Regions from separate parts of the Homo sapiens genome. Here region 2 is linked to region 1. Evidence: fine-mapped expression QTL. A gene starts in region 1. The other region holds a variant in brackets. All regions are shown on one strand. Distances are from middle to middle. Region 1 holds the start of USP12 (ubiquitin specific peptidase 12). Region 2 overlaps USP12 (ubiquitin specific peptidase 12).

Evidence for each region.
Region 2: its variant is fine-mapped to the expression of USP12 in whole blood (INTERVAL, PIP 0.99).

What each region holds. Positions count from the first base shown.
Region 1 is chr13:27,163,846-27,179,643 of GRCh38, reverse strand. USP12 (ubiquitin specific peptidase 12) reads left to right here and starts at 7,833. Exons shown (of 9, transcript NM_182488.4): 1 at 7,833-8,052. The coding sequence starts at 8,005. USP12-AS1 (USP12 antisense RNA 1) reads right to left here. Exons shown (of 3, transcript NR_046547.1): 3 at 10,509-10,707. It overlaps USP12-DT (USP12 divergent transcript), which reads right to left and starts at 7,385. Exons shown (of 2, transcript NR_046548.1): 1 at 7,272-7,385. RefSeq lists enhancers at 778-1,278, 7,057-7,246, 8,747-8,856 and silencers at 7,307-7,946, 8,087-8,136, 8,197-8,286, 8,357-8,426, 8,457-8,506.
Region 2 is chr13:27,097,200-27,112,997 of GRCh38, reverse strand. USP12 (ubiquitin specific peptidase 12) reads left to right here. Exons shown (of 9, transcript NM_182488.4): 3 at 7,054-7,267. Among named protein-coding and RNA genes, the nearest start is that of USP12-AS1, 20 kb to the left of the region's middle. The variant G/A (reference allele first, on the strand shown) is at 8,344.

The sequences.
Region 1 (15,798 bases):
CCCTGCCCTTCTTCCCAAGTCCCTGGCAACTGCCATTGTCCTTTCTGGCTCTATGAATTTGACTACTCTAGGTACCTCATACACATGGAATACTGTATGGAATCATATAATATTTGTCATTTTGTGACTGGTTTATTTCACTTAGCGTAACATCCTCAAGGTTTATTCGTGTTGTAGCATGTGTTGAAATACCATTTATTGTTAAGGCTGAATAATAATCCATTGTACGTTTATATTACATTTTGTTTATCTATTCTTCTGTCAATGGACATGCGGGTTGTTTCCACCTTTTGGCTGTTGGAAATTCATTACCTCTTGAGTCAAGGAATCACAAGCTATTTTGACTGAAGTGTCCTGTTAAGAACAGGTGAAGATTCCAGGTGAACAACCGTGCATTCCTTTTATCTCCTTGTGGGCTTGGTCTGGTGCTGAGAACTTATGTACAATATCATATTTAATCCTTTCAACAACATGATGAAGTAGGGGTCTTCACCATTGTATAATGAGGAAACTGGAGTTGAGAAAGTTAAGAGCTTGTTCAGAATCACAAACTGGCTGGGCATGGTGGCTCATGCCTGTAATCCCAGTACTTTGGGAGGCCGAGGCGGGCAGATCACCTGAGGTCTGGAGTTCGAGACCAGCCTGGCCAACATGGTGAAACCCCATCTCTACTAAAAACACAAAAATTAGCTGGCTGTGGTGGTACACTCCTGTAATCCCAGCTACTTGGGAGGCTAAGGCAGGAGAATTGCTTGAACCCGGGAGGTGAAGGTTGCAGTTAGCCAAGATCGCACCAGTGCACTCCAGCCTGGGTGACAGAGTGAGACTAAGTCTCAAAAAAAAAAAAAAAAAGAAAGAAAGAAAGAAAAGAAGAAAAAAGAATCACAAACTGAACATCTTGCATGTGTGTTTGTGTGTGTGTACAGGGGGAGTCAATCAAGCCTTCGGACACCCTAAGTCTTAACTTGAAACCCTGTAGTATTTCAGGGTCAACTATCCCTACTACAGAGCTTTATAAACTTTGACTTTCCCATATTCATTATTTTATTGTCTATTTCCTGTTTCCCAGGAACAATTAACAATAGAATCCTTAAGATGCAAAACTCCTTGCTGTTTACCAGCAACAGAAGAGAGGAAGAAGTGGCTCTGGGGGAATTGCGTGCCAGTCTGCGGCAGGTTGGCTGGAGAAGCAGCCCTGGTTGGAGCTTTGGAGAGACACATGTGCATTTACTTGTTACCTGGAAGACCTTTTAAAAAAAATTCTCGTAAATCTGTCATTTGTGTATCCTCAAGGTTTGTGGCAGAAAGCAGATATATCTGCTCCTGTGTGTAATTGTTGTTAAAAAACACAAAAAGGAAATAAAAGTGCACAACATACCTAGCAGACTTGACCAGAGGGAATTGGGAAAGGCCAAAGTAAATTATTCTAAAAAATAAGCAAGCAAACCAGAAAAGGTTAAGATGGAGAGGAGCTTAGAGGAGCAAGTGCTCTTCCCATGCTGGGAAAAAGGCAGCGACAGAACCGCCTAGTGGGCAGGTGAGGGCACTGATCACGTGATAGACTGGGGCCCACTGCATCTCTTTTCTCTTTGGGTCTTGAGGATGGAGAGGCAGGAACATGAAAACAGTGAGAAATTTTGAGGTTCACTTCCCTTCTTCCACCTCTCACTTCCCCCATAACCTCTTCCTTTTGATAGTGCTGGAAGAACAACCCAAGGCCAGCCCTCTTGAAGCAGGCAAATAGATGCTTGTCCTTTACTTCATGTATAAAGAGATTGTTTTCTTTCTTTACTAAGACAGTCAGAGCCAATGAAAGTGGAAGATAAGTACCTCGAGAGAGCCCTAAGGAGGGAGCATGGGGGTTCAAGTGTATGGTCTACTTAGGCAGAGAGGAATCAGAGTTAAACTAGGCTCAAAATACATTTTTATTTTGAGACAGCCTTGCTCTGTTGCTCAGGCTGGAGTGCAATGGTGTGATCTTGGCTCACTGCAACCTCTGCCTTCCGGGTTCAAGTGATTCTCCTGCCTCAGCCTTCTGAGTAGCTGGGATTACAGGCGCGTGCCACCATGCCCGGCTAATTTTTGTATTTTTTAGTAGAGATGGGGTTTCACCATATTGGTCATGCTGGTCTCGAACTCCTGACCTCGTGATCTGCCAGCCTCGGCCTCCCAAAGTGCTGGGATTACAGGTGTGAACCAGTGGGCCTGGCCAATACATTACTTTTAAAAAGAAAAAAAAATGTTAACTGTGCCCTAGTAATTTAAAAATAATGTCACATAAATATGTCTTTTAAGTCTTAAAAATACTCCATTTACTGAAATTTTGAAATAGTTGTATATTCGCATGTGTAACTAAAAAAGTATACAGTAAAAATTCCCTCCTCCACCTTCTCCCCTAGTTCCTACTTCCTCATTCCAGGAAATCACCGTTAACAGTTTCTTGTGTATATGACAGGAGTTTCTTCATGCTAAATATATTTTGGAATTTTTTATTTGGTTTAACATTGCTGTGCTTAGCTATTTTAATAGAGTTTTTTTTTTTTTTTTTAAAGAAGAAGTAGAAACTGTGTGTATTTCATCAGCTGAGGATTCAGCTTGAACATTTCAGGAAACCCCAACGTGGCACATTACCTCTCCCTAGGTACCCTAGGTAGGCTGATGAAGGTCAAGTGGCAAGGAGGCCCCGTGGGTGCTAAAATGCAAATCTGAATGTGAAAGTGACAGCAAAATGACAAGGTAGAGCCAAAGGTTTCCCATACAAACTCCAACAAATGGTTAAACCCTGGTAAAACATATAGAAAAACTACTCTGAAAAATTTGAGAAGTAGGTAGTAGAGAGAAGGCAAGATGAAGGAAGATGTATCCAAAGGAAAAACTCTAAGGGCACAAATCAAGAAAATCAGAGTTGGGAATGGGGAAGTTAGACCTAGATGCCGGAGGCTTCTCGGAGTCCAGAGGATGTTTCCTTTTCTTGTGCTATTTTTTTTCCCCTGATAAACTTTCTCATTAGAGCTGAGCAAATGCTGAAAAGAAAATGGGAAACTCCAACCCAAAGAAGAGATTCAGAGAAGCAGGCAGAATATCTGTTAGTGCTTGAGGAGCCTTGAAATGTATCGTGTTGCTTGGAGGTCAGCACTGTTCGAGACCAGCCTGGCCAACATGGTGAAACCCTGTCTCTACTAAAAATACAAAATTAGCCGGGTGTGGTGGCTCATGCCTGTAATCCCAAAATTAATCCGTCTCAAAAAAAAAAAGAAAGAAAAGAAAAAAAGAAAAAGAAAAGAAAGGAAAGGCCTGAAAAGTCGCTGATTTGTTGATTCAAGCCAATAAAAAATTTACTGTTTTGATTGACATCTACTGCTTGATGACTGGGTGATATTAATGAATGCCACTAAGACGACTGATTCCTTCAACTATTAAGAGGTTGGGTAAAGAAGCGGAGAGACCACAGGTTTTAGAGTCAGAGCCTTTGTGTGGATCCTGGCCCTGTATGTGCTGGTTAGTGCAATGATGAATGTCATATTCCCCTGTGTGTAAAATAAGTATGAAATGATGGATCTGTAAGGTCATCGTAAGGGTTACATTGGAATATGTATCTGAAGTACTAAGCAGGTGGCTGGCACATAGCAGAGGCTCATTAAATCTGGAGGAGCAAGCTGGCAGCCCGAGGGCTGTATTTGCCCACCCCAACTTTTTTTTTTTTTAAATTTTTTTTTTTTTGAGACGGAGTCTCGCTCGGTTGCCCAGGCTGGAGTGCAGTGGCGCGACCTTGGCTCACTGCAAGCTCTGCCATCCAGGTTCACGCCATTCTCCTGCCTCAGCCTCCCGAGTAGCTGGGACTACAGGCGCCCGCCACCATGCCCGGCTAATTTTTTGTATTTTTTAGTAGAGAAGGGGTTTCACCGGGTTAGCCAGGATGGTCTTGATGTCCTGACCTCGTGATCTGCCTGCCTCGGCCTCCCAAAGTGCTGGGATTACAGGCATGAGCCACTGCGCACGGCCCCCCAACTTTTAAAATGTTGACTTTGAATGTCCATTCTAAACTTTCCATTTTGTGTTGAGCGCCAGGCACTATTTGAAACATGTTTTATCGTTGTAACATAATTATTACCCTTATTTTCCAGATGAGGAAAGTGAAACAAAGAAATATCGATTTGAGTATTTTTTTTTTGTAGCTTAAACCTTCATGCAAGTCCGAAAGGAGTCGTGCCTCTCAACCTCATCCTGTCAGAATCAAAATAAAATACTTTTACAAAGCTAGTGTAGTGGAGTGGACACAGGTGTGGCTCCTGGAGCTAGGTTCAAACCTTGGTTCCATTGCTTACTAGTTAGTTGTGCAACCCTGGAAAAGTTATCTCTGTGCCTTGGTTTCCTTATCTAAACGTGGGGATAATCGTAACACCTGCTTCATTAGGTTGTTGCAAGGATTAGATAAAATGTTTACACCCCTTCTTGGACCACTCCCCATCACTTTCTTTCCCAACCCATCACAAGCAAAGCTTCACGAATCATTTATGTGAGCTGGTATAAACCCACATGCCTTCAGGGAGAAAAGAGGTAGCAGAACTATATAATAAAGTGACTTGTGTTAAACTGTTGAACAGAATGAGTAAAGGAAAATTTGAGGCAGACTGTAAGGAACTGGAGAGTGTAGGATTGTGTAACAGTATGCAAATGAAAACATTATAAAATGCTGTGCTGACTAAATGGATTAAGGTTGGACATAGTTCATTTACTTGCCTGGTCCCTGAGGCATCTGGGCATATTTTGTAGTTTGCATATTCAAGAAGGCCGAAAAGGAGTCAGTTGTACACAAACTCATCTTTTGCTAGGCACAGGGAAGCTCTTTGTAAAGCTGATTACACAGCTGTGTAAAGCTGTGTTCTAAAGCCAGATTACCCTTTCCAAGCTCAGGGTGCAAAAGTGTGGAGTTTCAGCCAAACTTATTCTCCAACTGCATTACATATGGTAAAGAACACTCAGTACAACACCTAGCACATAGATTCAAGAATGTCTCTTTTATGTTTGTGTCTCTCCAATCGACCATAGGCTGTGGAGACAAGGCATTGTGAGGCTCTGTGATTAGGTTTCATGACTTTACCTGTGAATTTAGATGGCTCCAACATCAACTAGACATGACTCCAGATAATTCTATCAGAAATCCATTTTACTTTTTAAAATTTAATTTAATTTAATTTTTGAGACGGAATCTTACTCTGTCGCCCAAGCTGGAGTGCAGTAGCATGATCTCGGCTCACTGGTTTTTCCCAGGTTCATGCGACTCTCCTGCCTCAGCCTCCCTAGTAGCTTGGATTACAGGTGCTCGCCACCATGCCCAACTAATTTTTGTAGTTTTAGTAGAGATGGGCTTTCTCCATGTTGGCCAGGTTGGTCTCAAACTCCTGACCTCAAGTGATCCGCCCGCCTTGGCCTCCCAAAGTGCTGGGATTACAACAGGCGAGAGCCACTGTGCTGTATTTTTGAGATACTGTTTCAGTCTGTCGCTCAGGCTACAGTGCAGTGGTTCAATCATGGCTCACTGCAACCTGGATATCTCGGGCTTAAGTTATCCTCTTACTTCGCCTCACAAGTAGCTGGGACTATAGGTATGCGCCACCATGCACCACGTATTTATTTTTATTTTTAGTAGAGACAAGGTCTCACTATGTTGCCCAGGCTGGTCTTGAACTCCCTGGTCTCAAGGAAGTTGGAAGCCATCCTCCTGCCTCAGCCTCCCAAAGTGCTGGGATTACAGGCCTGATCCACTGTGCCCAGCCTAGAAATTTATTTATTTATTTATTTTTGAGAGAGTCTCACTCTGTCACCCAGGCTGGGGTGCAATGGCACAATCCCAGTTCACTGCAATCTCCACCTCCAGGATCCAATCTATTCTTATGCCTCAGCCTCCTGAGTAGCTGGGATTACAGGCGTACACTGCTACGCCTGGCTAATTTTTGTATTTTAGTAGAGACGGGATTTCACCACGTTGGCCAGGCTGGTCTCCAACTCCTGACCTCAAGTGATCCACCTGCCTCGGCCTCCCAAAGTGCTGGAATTACAGGTGTGAGCCACCATACTCAGCCTAGAAATTCATTTTAGAAAGGCCTTGTTCTTATATAAACTTATATGTAAAGCCAGTGGCTTTTGTTCCTGTGACATGTTCGGATTAATGGACAAGGAGGCATATGGGTGGTTAGCGGGATGGAGGCAGGTCTAAAATTCTGGCACATCAGACCTGTTTGCTGGAATAGAACAGCAAGTGGGAAGGACAGGATGACCACAGCTATTTATCAGGACGGGCACACAGATGGGCATGGTGACACTCGGACAAGGCCCAGGTAGGCCCTAGAGGTCTAAGATGTAGAAACCCTTGTCCAAACAGGGGGTAGAAAAGAGCAAGAAAGAATTCAGGTGGGTGATGCTTGCAAGTATAGAGAGGAAAGCCCCTGGCTGGGGTATCAGGGCTCTTGGCTTCCATGGAGGCAGGCGCTTGGAGATCCAGTCCGGCTACCATGGGGCTTGGCTATATTCAATCTGCATTCCCCCCCCAAGCAAGCTTATAATGGAATCACTATGGAAACAGTATTCATGTACCAGAAGTCTATTTTTCACTTAAATTTTGTTTGAATGCTTTTTGTTTTTGAGTGCTTTGAACCCTTGAGGTGAGGCATTTCTGATTTTACAGCTCTGCCTGAATTCAGATCCTCAACCCCACTGAATTAGGGGAACCCAGAAAAGTACCCCATCACGAGTTCAATCAGAAAATATCACAAGCTTTCTAACATAATAATTTATGAAGTTATTCTACTCACTTGAACTACTTTCTCAAATAGGAAAAAATAAAGCTGAGCTGCCAGGCATGAAGAACAGGGTGCAAATATGAATTTTATAAAAGGAGAAAGAGGAACTACCCATGCCAGTAGCCAGCACTGCCTAAGGATTTCTCACAGGGCATTTTTCTTGCTTGCGGGCTTCCTGTCTCTGGTAATATCATCATCACTGCTGGCTTGAGATCCTCCCTATTTTGCAGCTCAATGTGCAGATATTTAGAAGCCTATTATAAATTTATCGCCAACAGGCCAACAGGTTTCGCTCCTCTCCTTCCCCCATTACTTATCTTTCTTCTTAATTCAAAGAGTTAAACATGTGTAATTTGTTCTTTGCCTCTTCATTTTTGTTTAATTATTTTGTCTTTTTCTAAGTTGTGTTTGACTCCGGTGATTCATCCAATATACGTAAAAAGAAACAAACCAAGTGCTTGGGACGCATACCCGGGTTATCTTAACTGTGCAGAGCAGGTTTCCTCCCACTCCGCCCGTAGTTACCCAGATCATCGCCTCCGTTTTCTGTTTAGGCAGCGGGGGCTCGCCGTCCCCTCGCCCGCGGTGGGTGTCGCAGCTGGTCCCCTCCAGGGTTCTCCCAGATCGCCGCCGCCACCCCCGCGCCTCCCCGCCGCACCCCTTCCTACGCGGGGGTCTCTGGGTCCCCGGCTCTAGGACCGCAGGGACGCGGGCAGGAGGTGGCGCCCGCCTTCGGTCCTGCCCTCTGCCGCGCGCGGGGTGGGGACGGACCGGAGTTCCCCGGCTCGCGCACAAGGGCCGCGGAGGGGTTGCCGAGGGGTGGGCGGGGCTGCGCCGCCTGGCCGCGCCGCTGCCTGGCAGGCCGGGCATTAGGGCCTCGGCGGAGCCCGCTCCCCTGTGCGCTGGGCGGGGTGGGCGGAGGGCGGCTTCGCGTGCAGGCGCGGGCCCGGAGGCAGCGGCTGCGCCCTGCGCCGGGGCGGAGCCGGGGGCGGGCCGGCGGCCGGCAGGCGGGGGCTGGGGCCCGAGGCCGGGAGTGCCTGAGCGCCGGCGGCGACGACGGCAGCGGCGGCCCAGCGGGCTCGGTGGTTGGGTCCGCGGCGGCTCGGGGTCCGCCCGCGGGCTGCGGTGCGAGCGGGCGGCCCGGCTCCCCTCCTCCCCCGCCCGCCGCCGCCGCTGTGATTGGGTGGAAGATGGCGCTGGCCGGATGGAAATCCTAATGACAGTCTCCAAATTCGCCTCCATCTGTACCATGGTAGGTGGCGGCGAGCGGGCGGCCGGGGCTGCCGGGACCTCTCGGGCGGGCGGGCGGCGCTGGACCCGCCTCTCCCAGTGGCCGCTCGCGGGGCCTAGCGCCGGGGCGGGCGGGCGGGCTGGGCGGCCCGGGCGGCCCGGGCGGGGGCGGTTGGACGGCGCGCAGGCGGGGAGCGCGGGGGTGAGCGGCCCAGGCGGCTGGGGAGGGGGCGCCGCCTGGTGGGCCAGGGCGGCGCGAGGGTAGCGGTGAGTGGGCGACCGTGCCAGACGCGGCGTCGGGCGGGCACCGGCCTCCGGGAGTCCCCGGCTGAACTGCTGGGGTCCGCTCGGGACGCGGGGACGAGGGCCGAGGCGCGCCCGGCCTGTGCCGGGGTGAGGGGTGGGCGCGCGCGAGCCAGAGCGCGGCCCCGGGCCGGGGTCGTCGGGGAGGGGGCGCGGAGCCGCGCGGGCTCCATTTCCTTCTGGTCGCGCGCCGAGCGGGAGGGGTCCCCGGGAGGGGTGGGGGTCGGCGGGCAGGAAGGAAGGGTCTCGGCCGGGGCGGGCAGCGCTCATTCCCGCCTGGGAGAGGACGGAAGTCAAGTGCAGATTTCCTCGCGCCGCTGGCTGGGCCGAGTCCCCGACCCCGCGCTGGGGGAAAGGGGCGTGTGTGAAGGTGGAAACTTTAAATAAGTACTGTTGAAATTCTCTCCATTTTCTCCTCTGAGAGGCACGAGCTCTCCCGTTTCCAGCCGTGTGTCCAGGTGGCAGTCTTGTCTCTGGGAATGCACGTTAATCTTGAAAAGCAGCATTAGCTTTCCTGTCATTTGTTTACTTCAGCCCACCAGACACATCTGTATGTGGCTGGAGCTAGGTCTGTCTGTGCGGGGACCGCCTGCCAAGGCGATGGTATTTGTTTTCCTAGGGCGTTTAAATAGACTGTAAGGGAAAAGTGCTAATGCCCGCTGGAAGTCCCGAATTAAGCAAAACGTGGGCGCGTTTAAAACTTGGTGTTTTGTGCGTGGCCAGAAGGACCACAGTTTTCCACATGATGAGACAAATTCGTTTCATTAGTTCCTCATGAGCTTATATGTAGGGATCATAATTTATGAGTCATCACCGAAAAAAGTTGTTCTTTGCAACGTGGGCCTAGTGGTTGTTATTAGAGACTTCTGAAATCTTGTGTTTCATGCCTCACTGGCCCTATTTATGCAACTGATTTCATATAGGAGATCCCCAAGAAATTTTCCATCTAAGGGTGGTACATTGTATATATTTTTCTTTAAGGAGTGGTGAATCAGATCTGAAAGATGCCTTAAAAAGCAGATTCTCTACTACACGCTGAGGAACAGTACAAAAAATGACTGAAATCAGGTGGACATAAAATCGACAGTATTAAAGAAATCATATTGAAGGATGAATCATTGAAGACTCCATTTCCCAACTGGATGATTGTTCTTTCTCACAGTTTACATTTTAGGAAAGCATTTGTATTAAATGGACTATATTAAAATGATTTTGGAGAATTGTTTGGGCTAATTATTTTTAGATACGCCAATTATTATCTTAGTCAATTTCAAAAGGAATGCGATAATTAGGTCTTTTACAGTGACAATTTTGCCACATGGCTGAGCTACACACATTGTATGGGTCATAGTTCATTGTCAAAGACTAGATTTCAGGAGTGGTGTGATACTCTTTACCGACTGTTCATTCACTCAAGTACTGTATATCAAGTATACACTTAGCAGCCACTAAGTGCTAGAGGCGACGCTGAGTACTGGGGATGCAGTATTGGTCAGGGCAGCCCCTGTTTTCTTGGTGTTTACATTCTTGCTCATGGACACAAACAGTATTCAGGTAAACAATAAATGTATGCTGTAATCAGATTAGGACAGTGAGACACAGGGATTTGCCAGGGTCACACACTTAGTAAGTGGGATTCTGATCCCAAGGATGTCAAATCAGAAGCTCTTTCTAGGGCTTCCATCCAGATACATTAATTACATGTGGGGCGTGTGTATTGTTGGCAAATACAGAAAATGCCTGGCCAAATGAGATCGTTCCAAAGGTACTATTAAAATTGGGTGTGTCTGTATTCATATTTGAATACATTCGAATGTACCCCCAAATAGTGCTGAATATCTCAAAGTAATTTGCAGTCTTATTCTTTAAAGAAAATTGCCATTTGTCCTCTGAGAATCACAAAATTGAAAAGCAAAGATACCTCTTTGGCTTTGTAGGTGCTGTTTTGCTAGGCTTGGAACGCTCCTCCCTGCCACACCCCGTATCCTTCTTGTCTGGCGAGTGTGTGTGCCTGTCTCTTAAGCAGGGAGCCTTACTTGAATAATCCTACCCCTGTCCAACCCGACCCTCCATCCCCTTCATACAGTTTCATGGCATTTTTGTAATCTCAGTAGCACTTATCATACTTACTGTGCAGTAAATTTTTCTTTGAACTCTTACTCAATTGTGAGGGCCTTGAAGGGGAAGGATTATCATTTACTTCTGCAGTTTGATCTGGAGTACCAAGTTCTGCATTCAGTATAAAAGTTTTCCAAAGTCCTTCCTGCCTCCTCCTGGTATGCCGGGTGAAGCAGGGATGATGTGGCTGTGTGTGTGTGGAATGGTGGAGAGAAGATGGGCTGGACTTAAACAGAACACTTCTCAGAATCAGCAGCTGTGAAAACATTTAGGATGAGTTGAAATTTTATTCTATAAGTACTGAAGTGTACATAATTTTTTCATTTGTCAAAATAACGTACCTGGGCAAATCTGCAATACCTTAATTGGGTTAAGTAACTGTTAAAAACAATTCTCTTCAGCTGTGTCTTATTTTAGATCACTAGTGTTGTGCTTACATGTGAAAATTAGTAAAACTTGTTTTTCATAAGTTAGTATTATAGCCTGAACCAAATGAGTGATTATGTTTAGATTGCAGTGAGTACATTTTCAAGGGTACCTCTTGAAATACCTGTTTTTAATTTGTCTATGAAATAATACATTTTCAGTATCACATAGTGTTTATTTTGCCTTTGAAGTAGTTTCAGACTTCAGGGCCTGGCACGGAGTACCTGCCTACCTGATATTTAATATTATACTTAATAAGTGTGAAATAACGGGAAAAGTGACAGAATACATGTAGAGAGGCTGTGTTTTGCAGTTGAGGTGGCTAATCCGGGTGGTCCGTCATGGGCATGCAGTAGTGGTCAGGACAGCCCCTGCTTTGGAGCTGGCACTACTTACTGTTAGCTCCATAAATGTTAGCTCTGCCTCTGATCATTATTGTCTCTTCCTGTTTGGGTTGTAGGAGTCATGGTTAGGAAGGCGTTGTTGGGAGGGGGACCAGACAACGGAGAAGTTGTTGGTGCAGGAGGTGGGTAGAGTTAGATCATGGGGTGGCACTGGCCTGGCTGCTTGCCCACCCTCGGTTACAAGGGCATGAGATTAGATCCATTAGAACATGGTGGTAATGAGGCCAAAGCTGGTAAAGGTAGGTGCTAGGAGAGTCCCACGGGCTTTTCTTCTGAGAAAGCCTGTGCCTAGCACAGCACCCTGAGCATGGTAAACTTTACTTGCTGAAGAAAGGCACAGGTGAAACTGGCTGTCTTTTCTTTTTTGTTTGCTCTGTTTTAATAACACGATTTTTAAAAACATAAATTAGAAAGGACATACATGGAAAATGTTTGCCTTTTCTTACTGCTCAGTCTCACTGGGATCCAGGTAAGGGTATGTGTGGTCAGTGCAATTTATCCTTACTACTGAAAAAAAGGAAAGCTGGGGCAAACCTCAGAGCCCATGCGTTGTTGGGAATGTGTGTGTGTGAAAGTCTCCTCTTCATATAACAAGAATATTATATTAAATAATGAAATTTCTTTTTCCTTCTCAAGAAATAGGGTGGATGTAGTTCTTTTATTAATAAAATATTTATTTGTAAATTAATATTTTATTAGTAAAATAGTACTTCTATGATAGGAGCATTCAAATGTGAGTTGCCATTGTTTTACTTATCTAATTTTGCTGTGTTAATTTAAGAAGGGAACAAAACTTAAGCTTCTTAAGCCTTTAAAAAAAATAAGAAAACCTCAAAAATAAGGAATCTTCTATTACATAAATGTTTGGTCAAAGGAATGTTTGAGCTTGGTGGAGAGAGAACATTTAGAAGAAGTATTAATAGAAGTTTTATTTAAGCCCACTCATCTTTTGAATTTGTCTAAAATACATTTTGGACATTAAAAATGATACATTCTCATAGAAAATCTGGAAAATATAAAAACTCCAAGAAAGCAAAAGGAAGGTCAATTTTTACCTCCCAGAGGATATGTTATTTATTTATTTATTTTATTTTTTTTTTGAGACGGAGTTTCACTCTTGTTGCCCAGGCTGGAGTGCAATGCTGCAATCTTGGCTCACCGCAACCTCCACCTCCCAGGTTCAAGTGATTCCCCTGCCTCAGCCTCCCGAGTAGCTGGGATTACAGGCATGTGCCACCACGCCCAGCTAATTTTTGTATTTTTAGTAGAGATGGGGTTTCTCCATGTTGGTCAGGCTGGCCAGAGCATATTTTATTTAACTTTTTAAAAAACTTGAGTTGTATTCCCTAGATATAGTTTTACACTGTTTACCCACGAATGATTATCATGTTATCATTATCATCATTCATGCCCATCCTAAAATTTGCCCAATTTTAGGATGAACATGAGTTTAATGTTATAAAATGATGAGGTGGTGAGATGAGCCCAATAAAGCATAGTGGTAGGGTACTAGGGCGTTGACAGGTTATATGTTTAATGATTATTAGAGGGTAAAGTGATATAGTTAGCAGAAATGGAATTTTATAAGAGGTGGTTTATTCTAATCTTAGGCACTTAGTTATCACAAAGATAAGACTTGTTATGATCTGAAATTTTTAATATGCTTGAAAACTCTAGTTTTAAATACCATATTCAATTATGTGGCATGTGTATAAATATTATGGTCTTATTTTATATCATATGGCTTTGCTTACCTTCTGGTGACTTTCTCTTTCCACCTTTTGCTAATAAGTGGCTAATAGGTCTCAAAGTAGGTTAATTATCTGCCCTACCATGATCCATGTTGGCCAGTTGCAGCGAGATGATGTCACATTTCTTGTTGCCTTATTTGATTCTAGACTTTTGACCAAGTCCCCCCAAACTGAGTCTGCCTCCTTTTTGTCATTTACCAAATTCCTTTCTTCCTGCCTTTAAACTCATATTTATTCTAGCTCTTCTGAAACTTTTATTGTCTCAGGAAGTATCTTTTAAGCATTTGTATACTTTGTATAATTCCTTTCCAGAAACCTTTTTAGATTTAAATAATCTAATTTTGTTTTGGTTTCTCTTTTAGCAGCTCTATTCCAGAAACTTAATATGGTATTTTGTTATGTATTTGACAGCATGGTATAATGAAAAGAGCAGTTGGACCAGAAGGTAAATTCTAGTCCAGATTTTGACATTTAGATGTGTATATATGGGAAAGTTTCTTAAAACTTCGAGTTAATTTTTCTCATCTGTGAAATAAAGGGATTGGACTAGATACTCTTTAATAGATATTCCTTATATGCTTGTCTCCTTCTAGGTCTAAAATTCTGATCCTTTAGTAGTTTATAAATGATTATTGGTATCATTTTCATCATTTTAGGAGCTCTTTTTTAAAAAATTATTATTATTTTTTTTGCTCTGTAGCCCATTTCTAGAACATCTTGGGAGTTCTAATTATGTTTTAGATAACATAAAAAGCATAGAATCAGACATAATTAAGCAAGAATTTCACTTAGTTCCCTAGTTTTTACAGTCTAAATACATTTTTCTTTCTTTAAAACTGGAGGTTACTGATACCACCATTTTCGTCACCAACAGCCTAATAATTCACAAAGCTATTTGCTAATTTTTGACACTTTTTTCTTTGCCAGTACCATTAAGGGATTTGAATTTTTTTGAGGTTCCATGTTTATTTCTTTAGTTATGAGTATGACCTTGGACAAGTTACTTCTCTGTACCTGTAAAGTGAGAGTAAAATAACATCTAGTTCATAGGGTTGTTGACTAGTACCTGGCCCATGGTAATCACTGTGTCATGTTGGCTGTTACTGCCCTTTAACATGATTTGCTCCCCTCCCTGTGGTAAAAAGTATTCATTGGCACTACTAATTAATCTGTTAGCTCAACATATACTAACCAAAATGGAAATTTGTTTTGTGAAATACAATTGTCAGTTCCTTTTCATTATAAGAAACGTTAGTTTATTAGTAGTATATACCCCTGAGAAAGCACTAATTTATTTTGAAATTGAGTGGATTAATTCATAATATGAAAGCTGAGAATGTAGATTGTCTTCTTTCTCTATTTTGAATAGTTCATAGAATAATTTATTTCTTTTATCTGGGAACAAAAATAACTGGTCTAATTTGTGACATTCTCAAACATATTTTACAAGTTTAGATAAGTTGAGAATGGCAAAAACCACAATTACTTTTGCAACAATCTAATACTTTTAGAAGAAAAATCTATCTTACCTTATTTTATACTAAAAAAAAAAAAAAGCACACCAGCTTTTTGTCATTACTAGAACAAGGTGTGTGCATTCAAGTTAGCTTCAGGACTTATTTTCTTTCAGATTTTTCTGTTTACTGAGGCCATATTATTATATTTAATTTCCTTATGCTCTATCCTTTAGGGAGCATAACAAGGGAATAACATCTCTTGTTGGCTTACATTGAACTTACCCACCTTGCTCTTAGATATCTTGTCTAAAACCTACAGTCCCAATCTCCTAGTCTAGAAGAGGGATATTTACATATCTACACCATACTTTAAAGGTGTTGGGAGAAAGTAGTAAGTGAAGAGTTGTATTATGAAGAGTTACACTTGCTGAACTGAAAACTCTCTATTGGAGTCCCAGTATTGTTGAAAAACTTACATATAACATTTGACCATTTGCTATCTTATGTGCAGAATTTGCTTTAGGAGGTTAGAGTGGCAGTTTATATACATTTATTTAGGAAGAAAAACTAGTAAGTCTTTGCTTTCTCACAGCAAAACTCGAAGACTTTTGTGATAGTGTAAACTATAAGAAATTTAATGTAGAGCACCACTGTGTGAGGTGGTATAGCCCTCTCTGTTCCTTGGCTTATGCTTTGCTGCTGCTTCTCTTTCAGAAGGACCATTAGCTTCTTCTAAACAGTATGTTATGTCTAAAGAAGAGATGTGTAAGCTTGCTTTATTTATCTGTAGTGAGCCACATGTCCAAAGCTACGTACCAATAAAAATTTATTTCCAACTGAAAACAAGAAGTAGATGTTTATTTCAGTGATAATGGACAGATGTTCTTAACTGAAATGCTTCATGGGTAGAGGAAGCATCCACACATTCTCTACTTGTAAAGGGTGGTTTAAATCATAATATCTTTCAGTAGAGTTAGAGTACTGTTGCCTTTGATTTTATTTTAGTGCTTTTTATTTTAGTGACCTACTAAGCCTCTACCTGATGCTAGTGATTTTTTTTTTTTTCCTTTTTGTAGGGATAAAGAGTGCTTTTTCTAAAGTATTTTGAGGAAGGATTCATGGAGACCTACATTATATCGTGCTGCATGTAGGTTCTGAGAACATGAAGACGACTGTGATAAACTCTGGTCTTATGGAACTTCCCATTCAGTGTGTCTTGAGTGGGTTATAGTTGTGCTGAGGAAGTAGTCCTCTTGACCCCTGGGAAGCCTGGAGGTATCTGGGTTGATAGGAGACCCTTAGCCAGTCC
Region 2 (15,798 bases), 67 kb after region 1:
CCTCCCAAAGTGCTGGGATTACAGGCATGAGCCATTGTGCCTAGCCTCAGTATTTAAACAAAGTAATGCTATTGACATTATGGTGGTTAAAACTAGTAGTCTCCAAATGAAGTGTGTAAGATGATCCATTGGGAATAGGAAGAAAATATTAGCATTTCTGATGTTTATTTTTATCTAAAAATGGTAGACTAAGCATTATTCTTAACATATGGATGAGACTGGTGCCTATACTCTATCTGTATATGATATGGTTGTATGTTATTTCAAGTTCCATGATGTCAAAGGGTTGATGGCATCATCTCTCTCATTTGTTTCTGCTGTGGCAGATCTATTATAATTTAAATGTAGTTTTAGAGAATTATATGATTGAATTTTAGTTAACTTAAAAGGTTGTTTTAAAAGTTATTATTGGCTGGCCACAGTGGCTCATGCTTTTAATCCCAGCACTTTGGGAGGCCAAGACGAGAGGATTGCTTTGAGCCCAGAAATCTGAGACCAGCCTGGGCAACAGAGTGAGACCCTGTCTCTTAAAAAAAAAAAAATGCTGGGAGCATTTTGCATGCCTGAGTGCCTGAGGTCCCAGTTACTCCACAGACTGAGGTGGGAGGATCTTGAGTCCAGGAGGTTGAGGCTGCAGTGAGCCATGATCATACCACTGCACCCCAGCCTGGGTGACAGTAAGACACTGTCTCAGGAAAAAAAAAAAAAAAGTAGCTATGAAATGATGAAGGGCCAGTAACTGTTCTGAGTGTTTTATGTGATGATTCATTTAATTATTTAAGAAATTCTAAGAGGTAGGTGCTGTATTACCCCCTTTTTGCAGGTGAAGAAACTGGTAAACAACAGTTTAGTAATTTCCCAAGGTCAGATAGTGGAACCAGACTTGAACCTAGACAGTTTGGTTTCAGATCTTATGTGCTTCATTACTGTGCTGTGGGGCTCTCAAGGCAGGCATTTCCTAAATGTATTCAAACTAATTTGGTAGATAAGACTACAAATTGGATACCATGATTTAAAAAGTAAAGGTAGGTAGTGAGACTCTCATTCCCTTGCACCTATGTATCTTTAGGAAGGTATCTTTTTCAGTTTTGATAGCCATTAAAACCACATATCCAAATAACTGAACATCACAGACTATCAAATTGCTGTTTTAAAATCTAAAGCCTTTACAAAAATACTCAATCTCATTGCTCTCACTTAAGACTAATAATTTTTCATGAAAATAATAGTGTGTAATAAATAAGACAAACATCTAAAATGTGCATTTTCTTAATTGCATTCCTTTACATTTTTAATATACATAGTATGTATAATTTATAAATGTGTAAGGGATGTGCGCTCAAAATGGTCTTAGTAGTAGGTATATAAAAAATACTTGCGGTGGGATGTTTGTTAAGGTTTGGAGAAGAAGGCATTAGAGAAAGCTCTTTGAAAGCAAGAATGAGATTGTATTCACTAAGCAATCAAAAAATCAATGATAAGACCTCGAGTAGGGTGGCAACTTTTAAAATTTCTTCTCCCTAATTTAAACCTACCTTTGATTTTCAAAACCAGCTGAGATAACACAGCATAGATTTCAGCACTAAAGCAATGTTTTTTTGTTTTTTAAGAAATTGAGCATTCACAAACAAGAATATAGAGAAAATCATCCCAGAAAACCTTTTGCATGAAGGCTCTACTCTTGAAAGATAATTTTTAGGTCTTAGGACCTTGAATGAAAGTTAATATTAAAAATCAAGAAAATTGAAGGAAAAGTTTCAAAATTATTAAAAAGATTGAAAGTCAGCTTATTCTGGAGAAAGAGTAGTATTTTCAACCTTTTAATTTTTCTTTAATGGGATTGATGAAAGTAAATAAAAGAAGACTAATGGCAGGCCTCAGAGAATTGATTATAATATTACTGTTGCTTTATATTCAGAAGATGAGCAAGTCATGTTGGACAGAAGTGTGAGCCTGACTTCCAGTAGTCTACAAAATAGAGACTCCCTCTAGTTTTTTAGCCTATCCTATTTGCTTCTCATATTTTTTATAGATAGGTCAATCCTCATTATCATAATATTTCTGGTATACTTGGAGATGATCTCTTTTGCTTTCATCTCCCTGCTCGGTGGAAGTTGTTCAATTCCCCTGTTGCCTATTCCAAAATATGGAGATTGTATCTTCTCTTCAATTGATATAACCAGATTTGTTGGTCGTTAGCTTGATTAGATTGTAGTACAAATACAATTTTAAAGACAGATTTATACTGGATACTGGGTAAATTAATCTTAGTAACATTCAGTTGTACTTAACCCCTGGGTAGGGTTCATTGAAGTGTATCTGTAGTTACATTTATGATCATTGATATCAGTACGCTTTAATCACATACCTCTTAAGCTTAAGCGCCTCTTTTTCTGAAACCAGTGCTTGTCTCCTACTAGCAGTGTAGATATGAGAAGTCATTGTCCTCACTAGGTCTCAGGTCCTCAGCTGGAGAGGGGTTGGATCTCACAAGCCTCTTCAAAAAGTTGGTAACTCCTGTTTCAGTGGGGCAGAGGGATCTTATTTGTTTAATCTCTGTGGAAAAAAAGAAACATATTCAGACAATTAGGAGATTGAACATAGCAGAGCTTTGTTTTATCCCCTCAAATTATTGGCTCTGCCTAGTGTCTGTCTTCCCTATGAACTTATCTGGTTAGGTCCTTTATTTGCAATGATTGTGACACATAATGACATGATTATACAATTTACCTCAAAGATTAAACACCTCCTTTGAAAAGCTAGAGTAGGAGAGGTAAATATAATGAATCACTATGAACCCATCAACCTAGCTTGAACAATTACCAATATTTTCCTTCTCTTCCACTTATCCTTTTTTTTTTTTTTTTTTTACCTGGAAAAGGAAATCCTAGTCATCATGGCATTTTGGCCATAAATGGGACACGTTTAATTACATGTCTCAAAGTGGCAGGAACGTTTTAAAAAATATGATCACCTAATGATCACACCTAACAAAGTCAACAATTTCTTAATATCATCCAATGCAGTGGTATTGGATTGATTCAAGTATCTTCTTTTGTCTCAAAGATGACTTTTTTTTTTTTTTGGAGACAGAGTCTCACTGTGTCGCCCAGGCTGGAGTGCAATGGCGGCACCATCTCGGCTCACTGCAACCTCAGCCTCCCGTGTTCCAGCGATTCTCCTGTCTCAGCCTCCCGAGTAGCTGGGATTACAGGAGTAAAACGCCCGGCTAGTTTTTGTATTTTTAGTAGAGACGGGGTTTCACCATGTTGGCCAGGCTGGTCTTGAGCTCCTGACCTTAATCCACCCACCTCGGCCTCCCAAAGTGCTGGGATTACAGGCTTGAGCCACTGCGCCCAGCCAAAGATGACTTTTTATAGTTGGTTTGTAAATCAGGATCTAAGTAAACTCCAGCATTTACATTTGCAATTTGATTGTTGTGTCTCTTGAGTCCTTTTCAACCTTTTTTCAAGTCATCAATTTGTGGAGAAACTAGGTCATCTGTCCTAGAGACTATTCCCATTTCAAACTTGGCCTTTTCCTTCTTTGTGGTATTGTCTCTTTCATTGCCTGACTGTTGACTGTCTTGTAAATTAGTAGTTACACGTAGAGACTTGATTAAAGTTTAGTGATTTTGCTTAAGGCAAGAATACTTCATAGGAGGTAAGATATATTAAAAGACACACAATATTCAGTTGTTCACTTGAGCAATGCTGAAATCGCTGGGGTGTTTAGGTCTGTTCACTCTGTTTTAAACATCCCCATCAACTTTTAACCTAATGCTTTGAGCATCCATTGATAATTATTGCTTAATCCATTATTTACAACCATTTCTTCTGATTTTATTCACTGGACTTATTTTATAAACAGAAACTTCCTTCATCAACTGTTTAGTGCCCCTGAAATATGGTTCTTATAAGAAAGGCAAGATGAATCTTGAATGTTTTTCCTTTTATATATTAGTTTGCAATTGTCAATGGAGACTAAAGAGGGCTGCTTTTTAAAAAAATGTCATTATGTGTATATACACACACACACACATATGTATCTTTTTTTGTGGAGAAAGTCTCATTCTGTCGCCCAAGCCCGAGTACAGTGGTACCATCTTGGCTCACTGCAACCTCTGCCTCTACCACCCCAGCTTCCTGAGTAGCTGGGATTATAGGTGCGTGCCACCACACCCGGCTAATTTTTGTAATTTCAGTTAGAGACAGGGTTTCACCATGTTGGCCAGGCTAGTCTTAAACTCCTGACCGCAACTGATCCACCTGCCTTGGCCTCCCAAAGTGCTGGGATTACAGGCATGAGCCATTGTACCCAGCCTAAAATGTCATTTTAAATTTATGAATTTTTGTATAGTTGGTGTGTTTTGGTCCATTGCAGTAATCCTTTTGTATTAAAGTTGACACTTATATTTAAGATATCCCAGGCTAATCTTGCACATTGTACATTTCTTTTTTTTTTTTTATGCTTTAAGTTTTAGGGTACATGTGCACAATGTGCAGGTTAGCTACATATGTATACATGTGCCATGCTGGTGTGCTGCACCCATTAACTCCTCATTTAGCATTAGGTATATCTCCTAATGCTATCCCTCCCCTCTCCCCCCACCCCACAACAGTCCTCAGAGTGTGATGTTCCCCTTCCTTTGTCCATGTGTTCTCATTGTTCAATTCCCATCTATGAGTAAGAACATGCGGTGTTTGGTTTTTTGTCCTTGCGATAGTTTCCTGAGAATGATGATTTCCAATTTCATCCATGTCCCTACAAAGGACATGAACTCATCATTTTTTATGGCTGCATAGTATTCCATGGTGTATATGTGCCACATTTTCTTAATCCAGTCTATCATTGTTGGACATTTGGGTTGGTTCCAAGTCTTTGCTATTGTGAATAGTGCCGCAATAAACATATGTGTGCATGTGTCTTTATAGCAGCATGATTTGTAGTCCTTTGGGTATATACCCAGTAATGGGATGGCTGGGTCAAATGGTATTTCTAGTTCTAGATCCCTGAGGAATCACCACACTGACTTCCACAATGGTTGAACTAGTTTACAGTCCCACCAACAGTGTAAAAGTGTTCCTATTTCTCCACATCCTCTCCAGCACCTGTTGTTTCCTGACTTTTTAATGATTGCCATTCCAACTGGTGTGAGATGGTATCTCATTGTGGTTTTGATTTGCATTTCTCTGATGGCCAGTGATGATGAGCATTTTTTCATGTGTCTTTTGGCTGCATAAATGTCTTCTTTTGAGAAGGCACATTGTACATTTCTTATCGCAGATCTTGTATCAGCCATATCTTCAAGGTGTCCGAGTTCTTTTGGATGGGAAAAGGGTGTTTAGAGAACACAATCTGGGTATAGGAGAAACTTGTTGCTGCCACACCTTTTCAGTGGACAGAATTTGAAAACACGTACACACAAACATGCATGCATGCACACAGACATACATTTTCAGAGTTATAAGTTTATGTTGATATTTCTAACTGAAGTTTACAAGGCTTTTATTTTTCTGATTTTTATTATAGCATCTTTTTTTCCTTTACATTAAAAATTTTGGTTCCTAAGGGTATTAACATAATTCCTTGTTTGCTTTGTCCTATGATATAGCTACAATAGTTTCAAAATAACAATATCAATAAATTTGTTTTTTTTGTTTGTTTGTTTTTGAGACAGAGTCTCACTTTGTCATCCAAGCCGGAGTGCAGTGGTGCGATCTTGGCTCACTGCAGCCTCCGCCTCCCAGGTTCAAGCGATTCTCATACCTCAGCCTCCTGAGTAGTTGGAATCACAGGCATGTGTCATCATGCCTAGCTAATTTTTGTATTTTTAGTAGAGATGGGGTTTCACCATGTTGATCAAGTTGGTCTCGAACTTCTAACCTCAAGTGATCCGCCTGCCTCGGCCTCCCAAAGTGCTGGGATTACAGGTGTGAGCCACTGCGTCTGGCCAGTAGATTTTTTGTTGTTGCTGTTTTTGTTTTTTAAAATGATTAGACTATATCTCATTAGGCATGTATGGTAAACATTCTTTAAGTCACCTGAAATAATTAATTTCTCTTTATTTCTACCATTAAATCCATATACATTTAGGTTTTGTTTATTTTTGTTTTTAATTTTAGACATTTCTTTTTTATTTTAGAAAAGATAGGGGGTACAAAGTAAATGTTTTATAACAACATTCTTTCAGAGAAGTCTCATTTTTATCCATCTCTCCATTATTTTTCCTCTTCTCCTATAAACATTTTTGTTAGCTTTTTGTTTATCCTTCCTCATTTTTTTAAAAAAAATAAATGGTCTATGGACATACATTTGATATCACCCAATCTTAAACATTTTTCTCTGCCTAGCCTTTTTAACCTAATACTGTATATACTTGATTTCACCCCATAGTAGAAATATGAGAATTATCCTCATTCCTTTTTTATAGTTTCATAGTGCTCCCCAAATCTTCATGACTGACTTTTAGCTGTTTTATAGCTTTTAGAGCCAGTGTTTATTAATGGAAGGGAAAAGGAAGGCAATACATATTTATGAAACTGTGTGTCATTTACTTTATAAAGTAGGTTTATTTCCCCGCCCGCCCCCTCCCCCGTCTCGCCCCAATTACTAGAGTGGAGAGGAGTAGAGTTCAGTAAGATGTAGTGACATACCCCAATGACATGGCTGGTAAGAGAGAAATTCATAGTTAAGGATTTGATGTCTTTCCAATACATCATGAATACTGTGACTTGGCATTTCAGTGGTTGCTAGACTGTCATACTGGTGACTTTTTCATGTAACGTTTCAGGGGATCTTGTTTTTTTTATTTTTTGTTTTTGTGTGTTTTAATTTGGATGTACCTAAGAACCTGATAGAAAACTTTACTTTTGTGATTTCCAAAGAATTTTTGAGAGTTGTATTTTAAAATGTATAATATAATGCAGTCAGTGTTATAGTAACAGTAGTAACCGATTGTCATCTCTTTCTGTTCTCAACCATATACCGGGAATTTCTCTCTTGAAAATGTGTTGCCCTAAATTTAACAAAACTTTTTTTTTTCTGTTGCAGTTTGGGAATACCTGCTACTGCAATTCAGTTCTTCAAGCACTTTATTTTTGTCGTCCATTTCGGGAAAAAGTTCTTGCGTATAAGAGTCAACCTAGGAAAAAGGAGAGCCTTCTTACATGCTTAGCAGATCTCTTCCATAGCATAGCCACTCAGAAGAAAAAGGTTGGAGTAATACCCCCTAAGAAGTTCATCACAAGATTACGGAAAGAAAATGGTAATTCTACTTCCCACTGTATTAATGACATACTAGGAAGGTTAAATATAGTGTGCCATAATTCCAGCACTTACTGAGCATCATCTGTATGCCTGATAACATGTTAGCTGTTGAAGAAACAAGGATGACACGCCTTTCTTCAAAGAGGCACTCGTTTAGTGAAGGAGATAGTCTTACAGTAATTAATACAAGATACGGTTAATGTTTGCATTGCGTTATACAGTGATAAAATTCTGTGTGGCAGCAAATGAGAAATCACAGTTTCTCTTTTTGCTTGCTTGGCTTTTCTGTCAAGAATGAAGGGTTTTTGTTTCTTTTTTTTTGCATGCTTATGCATTTGTTTTCATAATGCTTTCATGTGTGTTAACTCATTGGATCCTTGCAGTAGCCTTAGATAGAGAGCATGTCATTTCCCCCATTTTAGCCGTGAAAAATCAAAACCTAAAAAAGGCTTGCCAGGAGCCACACTCCGGGGAAGGAGCTAGAAAAGACCTTTTGGCTTAGGGTAGATAAGTTTTAATCCCCCAACCCCTTTTTAAAATAGTTACTGAGTAAGCCCCACCTCCCTTTTCTTTTTTGAAATATTGTTCATTTAATTTTCACATGCCAATAAGTTGGACATTATCACCCTATGAAATAACTGAGGCTCAGAGAGGTTAATTCGTCCAAGGTCCCACAGAGTTAGTAAGTGGTGGAGCTGGTATACAAACTTACTTCTCCCTGATATGTAAGCCCAGTGTTCTATCTAATGTGGGACACTGCCTCAAAAATTCAAATGGAATTTAGATAACATGTAGAATTCTGGCTTTTGTTTAATGTAGGCATTTTAATCATTGTAGAAAGAAAATTGAATGGCATTTTTAGTTGATTTGTTACCTATTAAGTAGACGCTCACAAGCAGGATTTGGGAAGTCATTAAGATGGATTATTAAATACCCTATTGCGTAATCCTGCCTTTAAATTAGTCAGTTGACACTGTACACAGTGAATTGAGGTAAGCCTGGATCATATCTAGTTCGCTGAAATATAAGATGACCCAGAAATAGGCTATAGGCTATTATTCTTGAATTTGATAC[G/A]TTTGTTGAAGATTTGTTCATTTTCCCCACATACACATGTAGAATAATTTGATTAATTGCTCATAAAAATACATCTTGTTTCCCCTAATGAAAGCTAAACGTATGTACTTTATTAGATTATAGATCTGTTTATCTTGTTTTTTTAGAAAATCAAATATAACCTTAATGCTCAAATGTGGATTGAGCAGTTAAGTCTTCTCAGTCTTTTTGTGTGTGTCTGTACAAAACTTTAAAAGTTTTGTCCTTGTGGAAAATTTATGTATTTGGTAATTGAACATGGCACCCTTTCTCAGTGACTTTATTAGTATTTTAAAAATGTTCAGTGACTGGACACGGTGGCTCACACCTATAATCCCAGCACTTTGGGAGGCCAAGGTAGGTGGACTGCTTGAGCCCAAGAGTTTGAGACTAGCCTCAGCAGCAAAGCAAGACCTTGTCTCACAAAAAATTTTAAAAATTAATCGGATGTGGTGGTGCACATCTGTAGTCCCAGCTACTTGGAAGGCTAAGGTGGCAGGATCGCTTGAGCCCAGGAGGTTGAAGCTGCAGTGAGCCCTGATTGCGCCACTCTCCAGCTTGGGTAACAGAGCAAGACCCTGTCTCTAAAAAAAAAGAGTTCAGAAGTATGCAGCTCATACAGAGCATACATTATTTCCCTTTTCATTTAATAGTACATTTCTCTTGGCCTTATTAACCTATCACATGGGCTCTTTATACAATGATGTTATCTTAGTTAGATTGACCCTCATGCTGAACAGAGGTAAAATACAGTTACATACTTATGGCTTTATATGTTTGTTTGTCAAACCTGGGGTATTTTTACAGTGTTCGTTATTTTTTCCAAATGGGCTTTTTTTCTTTTTTCATCTCTTTCTCTCTCTGTCTCTCTCTCTTTTTTTTTTTTTTTTTGGTAGAGATGGGGTCTCATTATGTTGCCCAGACTAGTCTTGAACTCCTGGCCTCAAATGACCCACCTCAGTCTCCCAAAGTGTTGGATTACAGGCATGAGCCACTGTGTCTGGCCTTATTATTATTATTATTATTATTTTTTTTTTTGATAGTTCAATAGTTACTAATTCTTTTTGTATTTAGGCAGATTGAATTGGTAACACAATAGAGTTCTTAAATACTTCTTTGAAAGAGACTGATTCTAGAATAAATATTCTAAGCCCATCTTCTCATAAGTTTTGCTTCATTTTTCTAAACTTCAGAAATAATGCTTAATAGAAAAGCCATTTTTTTAATAGAAAAGCATTTTTATTATTTGATGTTGCTGACATTTGCAAATATGTTTTGAAATATATTTTTGGCTTTTGAATTTTCCCTTGAGAATTGTGTAGAGAAGAATATACAAATCAAAGAGGATTTAATATATTATTCATTGCATATCTTTCCTTCTGAGATTTTGTTTGTTTTAAATCTTTGGAAAGTATGTTACTCATTTCAGTATTTCCACTGACTTTCACTGGTAGATGGTTCTTACTAAATTAATTTCCTGCCATACTATGTTAAAAATTTTATTCTCAATAGATATTAGCCCCATATTGTTTTAACCACCATTGCTTTATGTTACTAATCTTTTTGATGGTCCTGGAAAGAACTGATTTTAATTTCTATTTATTAATGAATTTTTGTTTTTACAGTTTTAACTCATGTTACCTAATCATAGCATAAGAGGACTGTTGCACAGTGCTCCTGCATAGAGTACAGCAACAGTGGCTCCATGCATGTTACCTGCTGATGGGATGGATGCTAGCTGAGTGTTTGAGTAGACTAATCATGATAGATATATTTCCTGTTGTGTGCCAGACACTGTTTAGGAACTGATGATACAGAAATATGCCTTCAGGTACCTGACACCCTCGTGGGGAAGCAGACAGCCATCAATTGTGTGATGTAATGTGTCACTGTCACGAAAAAAAGAAGACTGGGAAAGGGGACAGAGGATGAGGGAGTTGCTAGTTCATATGTCAGTCATTGGGAAATGTCCCTGATTAGGTAATGTTAGATCAGAAATTTGAAGACATCATTTTAAGATCTGAGGCAAAAATGTTACCATCAGTAGGAAGAAAGTGCAGGTTGCCTGAGTGCTTGAAGGATGGAAAGAAAATTAGCATGGCAAGAGTGGAATAAGATGAAGATAAAGTCAGAAGAACAGGGGCCTAAAGCTTGGGTTTTATTTGGAAAGCCATGGGAAACCACGAGAGGGTTCTGAGCAGGTGGGTGATACGTTCTGATTTGTTTGAGAAGACCCTTTGGCTGCTGGGTGGGCCTGGGCAGCATGAGAGTAGAGGCAGGAGACCAGCCTGGAGGCTGTTGCAGTACCCAGGTAGGAAATGGAGTCCTCTCTTTACAGGTACTGCCTGTGGGTGATCTACTATTATTTTGGAAGAAATACAACATAGGATGGTGATCTGATTGTGTTAGCTAGAGTTGACCCTCAACTGGACTGTTTGGGATCATTTTAGGTGGGCCTGAGGGCCACATCAGCTGGCATCTGTAGTTGTGTGCTCTGACTCACTGAACCTTAGCAGTGTCAGTCATTTCAGTTATTGTTTGGGGGCAGATCTACTTTTCTGTCATCATCTTAGTTGTTTCAATCCCTATTGTCCATTCATTCATTCATTCATTCATTCATTCATTAAAAAATGGGAAATACATCTCATTATGTGGCAGGCACGGTTGTCAGTCCTAGGGATGAGATAGAAAGGGTCCTTGTTCTTAAGGAACCTGCATGGACAAGCAGCGTTTCATGTGCCGTGGAGAGATACAAAAACAGATAAATTTAAGTCTTGGTCTCCCTCAAGTGAGGAAATTTTAGTTGTTCACAAATAATACCTGTTAAATATATTTGAGTAAATAATTTCTTATGTTTATTTCAAACAATTCTTTTTCTCCAAAAGAGCATAAATGGTATTTTGTGTAATGAGAGCTTATAGCTATTTCTGAATTATGAGGAGAACATAACCTATTTTTAAGCAGTGTTTTTCATTTTTTTTTGCATTATTGTTGCAGCTATATCAGGACTATAGTAGTTTATAATCATACATTTATTTAATAATGAAATTGTCTGTCTCTCCCACTAGACTGTCAGTTCCATGACGGAGGGAACCCATTTGTTTTTGCTCACCATTGTATTCCCAGCACATAATCCAGTTCCTGGCACATAGTAGGTGCTTACTAAATATTTATTGAATGAGTGAATGAATGAATGAAATTGTTTAACTTCCAAAGCAAGTTTGAAGTCCACCTTTCCCATCATGCTACTTAGCAAAGAAGAAAGCAAACCATAAGAAAACCAGGGTTTTAAAAATTAAATATAATACAGTTCACAGGGATTGTCCTGAGGTCATTCATCAGTGTTATTTTGATGTTTATACAGTCCTGGTTGACGCTTTTAAAACTATAATGGCTGCTTTCACATACAGCAAAATTCTGGCATATTCAGTATACTCTAAGGAAAATGGACTACAAATAATCTTAGAAATATTTCAACAAAAGTTTAAAGATTATTTTTTTGGTTTACTTTGCCTCTCATTTCCAGAGCATTCAAGTCATTGGAGGTATTTTTGTGAATATGAAATCATTGCTCTGTGTTAAAAGAGCATCCAGAAAAAGATGTACATTTTTAAAAAGCAAAAACATTTGCACATTTTTGCTTAAAAAGTAATTATTTTGAAAAACATGTATATGCTAAAATTCTTTTCAACAGGGAGAAATTAGGCTACTTCAGATTGTGGCATCAAGCCAATATGTAGTTAGCCGCTGTAGGGAATTATTCATCTCTAACCTTAACTAGGTCCTCAGCAGTGTTTATAAAATCTTTTTACTAGTTCTCCCTGATTATTCTTCTTTTTAGATTCCTCTAGGACTTTTCCAGTTGGTTTCCAACTTTTCTTCAGCCCCTCAACTCAACTTTAGCATAATTATCTTCCACTCCTTGCCTTAGTGGACCTGTTTGAGGTGGGTGGTTCCAGATTTGTGACCCGGAAATGGGTGGGTGAGTGAGAGATAAAGGTTCTTGAATTGTACGGGATTGAGGTGCATGCACGTCAGGAAGCTGCCTAGACACTGACATGTCAAGGTTGGTGCAGGAGGCAAAGTGGAGAGAGAAACTGAATCAGGCCATCAGTGGATGAGGAGGAGGGAGATGACCTCAGAGAGAGGAGGGTTGAGGGTCATAGTATGGCTGTATCTTGGGCACTTTTGTGATTGAGAGCAAGTAGCAGTAGGAAACTAGAAAATGCCAAAGGTTGATAAGGCGAGGGAGTTTGTTTAGAACAGAATGGAGGACCTAGAATGAGCAACTTAGAAAGGGTTGGGAACAAAGAAAATCCCAAGGATGAGAAAGGAAATAAGGTGCAATAAGCAAATGAGAGTAGTAGAGGATAGGAGATTGAGGCTGAGAGGGGAAATGGTTATTATTTTCAGGGACGGAGGATTATTGCATTGAAGGGCAAGGTTAGATAATTTGCTTCAGTTAGCTTAGCTGTGGTCTAGACTTTTCCAATTGGTGGAACCACGCAAGGTTCTATGCATGACTTGGCCCGGCCTCGGAGGGATGGAGTGGACTGCTGAGAAGATTTTTGAGTTGCAGGCTGTCTCAGTGTTGAGAGAGGTTGCATAGACTTCTACTCTGAGCAGGGAGAGGGGAATGGTGTCCCAGTGCTTTAGATCTACTATCTCTTGTGGACAAAAACCCACACACAGTGTACCAAATTCAAGATTAGTTGTTAAGTCCATGTAGGCTAGTACGGAGCTCTTAGAACTCATGACTTTTATTGTTTTTAAACATAACATGGGGATTTTGCTAAAGGCTAATGGGTCCCTCAGGCTAAACTTACAGCAGAGAAGTGAACTGTGGCTTCAGTTGCATTCTTAATATTATTGTATTTGATTTGAGACCCAAATTTGTGGAATGGATTTGGATATATGAAAATAACTAAATAATGAACGTGAAAAAAAATTATTGTGAATTTTACCATGTAATGCAAGAGATATCAGGGAAAATTCCTAGGGAGAAAGATTCAGGGTCTATAAATTAAACTTGTCTATTTGCAGTGTGAAACTGAAGGAAAGGAGACTTAGTGGGTTAAGTGAAGGGAGGTGACTTGAACTAGGTAGATTTAAATGGAAATGGAACAGACTAGACATGCAGGAAATGAACTTTAAAAATTGAAAGGGTTTGGGAAGTAATTGTTTATGAAGAATATGCAATAGACAGGCAGATTGCTTGAGCCTAGGAGTTCAAGATCAGCCTGGACAACATAGCGAGACCCCCATCTCTTAAAAAAATAAAGGAATGTGTAACAGGCAGTGACAGGGAGCGAGGAAGTGGACTTTTTGTATGGAAAGCTCTATGTTATTTTTAAGCATGCAAATAATACATGCATACATTCTTACAATAACATTTCAGTACCAAACAAACCTAGAAGTTTCCCTGAGTGCTCTCTGCTTCCTCCCCAGCTCCTCAATCTCGTCTTCCTTTGAAATACCTTGATGCTACCAAAAACCCTTTTCTATGCACTTAAATATATATGTCCAAATAGGAAGCCACAGTTACATTTTATGGGAACTATTTTTAGTGGAGATGGGGTTTCACCATGTTGGTCAGGCTGGTCTTGAACTCCTGACCTCAGGTGATCTGCCCCCCTCAGACTCACAAAGTGCTGGGATTACAGACATGAGCCACTGCTTCCAGCCGGTTGTTTGTTTTTCATGAGTGGGATCCACATGTGTTCAGCATCCTTGTTTCACTTTCTGTTTTGGAAGTTTTGCCATGTTAATTCAATGGAACTGTTTCCATTTTAACCGTTGCCCAGCATTCCCTAACAAAATTATAGCATAATTTAAATAAATCATTCTCCTGTTGATAAACATTTAGGATATTTTCAGACTTCTGCTGTTATAAATAAGCAGCCGTATTTATGCTTGTTTTGGTACATGCACAGATACTTACCTGGCATCGATACCTGGGAGAACTAGGTTGCATTATTTTAAATCTGTTACCAAAATTGCCTTTACAACGTGCCATACCAGTTTATACTCCCAGCAGCAACAGTTGAGAATGTCCATTTCTCCATACTCAAGCTAACACTGGATGGAAACTAAGTCAATTTTTATTTTGCCAAAGTGATGGGCAAAATGATATTTTGTCATTGTTTTAATTGTTATTTCCCAGTCCCTTGTCATGTATTATTTAGGCATTTGTATTTCTACTCTGAATTGGCTATTTTCCTTTGCCAGTTTTTAAAATTTTTTTTCTTGTTTTGTAAAGGGTTTTTTTTTAAATATTCTGTATATTAAACCTTTACATAGTCTGGATATTAATATGCAAATAATTATCCTTGTTCGTCACTTGTCTTCATTTATGTTGACTTTGCCATACAGAAGTTCATAGTTTTTACATAGTCAGTCTTTGATGTGTTTTGTATTCTGTTCAGTAGCAACAACAATTATATAGGTTGAGCATCCGTAATCCAGAAATCTGAAACTTTTTGAGCTGCATGATGCCACATGGGGTGGCTGAGGTAGTAACAACTTTACTTTCTGATGGTTCAGTGTACACAAATTTACTTCCCTGCACAAAGTTTTTAAAAATACTATATGAAGTTGCACTCCATCCTGGGCAACAAGAGCAAAACTCCATCTCAAAAAAAAAAAAAAAAAAGTACTATATAAAGTTACCTCCAGGCTATAAGGTGTATATGAAACAAATGAATTTCATGTTTAGATTTGAGTCACATCCCCAAAATATCTCATTATGTGTATGAAAATATTCTCAAATCTGAAGCAGTCTGAAGTCCCAACCACTGCTGGTCCCAAGCATTTTAGATAAAGGATATTCAACATGTAGTGATATTGCCAATATTGTTACTGTGGTTGTTGTTGAACAGAATACAAAACCTATTGTTGTATTCTAAGCACTTTTAATCTTCCTCCCAGCCTTGTGAGGTACAGGTACTGCTGTGAGCCCCATTTTTCAGATGAGGAATTATGGAACAGGGAGCTTGAATAAGTTGCCTATGCCACGCGTGCAGTTAGAAGTAGAACCATAGCACCAACCCAGACAGCCTTGCTCTAGCAGCTGTGCCCTCCTACCCCCATAAAAAGCTTCACTCATTCCCTTTCTGTTTTTACAATGACTTTGCAAAGAAAGATGGTATTCTGTTTTGTTGTTGTTGTTTTTGAGATGGAGTTTTGCTCTTGTTGCCCAGGCTGGAGTGCAATGGCGCAATCTCGGCTCACTGCAACCTCTACCTCCCGGGTTCAAGCGATTCTTCTGCCTCAGCTTCCCAAGTAGCTGGGATTACAGGCATGTGCCACCATGCCCAGTGAATTTTTTGTATTTAGTAGAGACGGACTTTCACCATGTTGGCCAGGCTGGTCTCAAACTCTTTACCTCAGGTGATCCACCTGCCTTGGCCTCCCAGAGTGCTGGATTATAGGCATGAG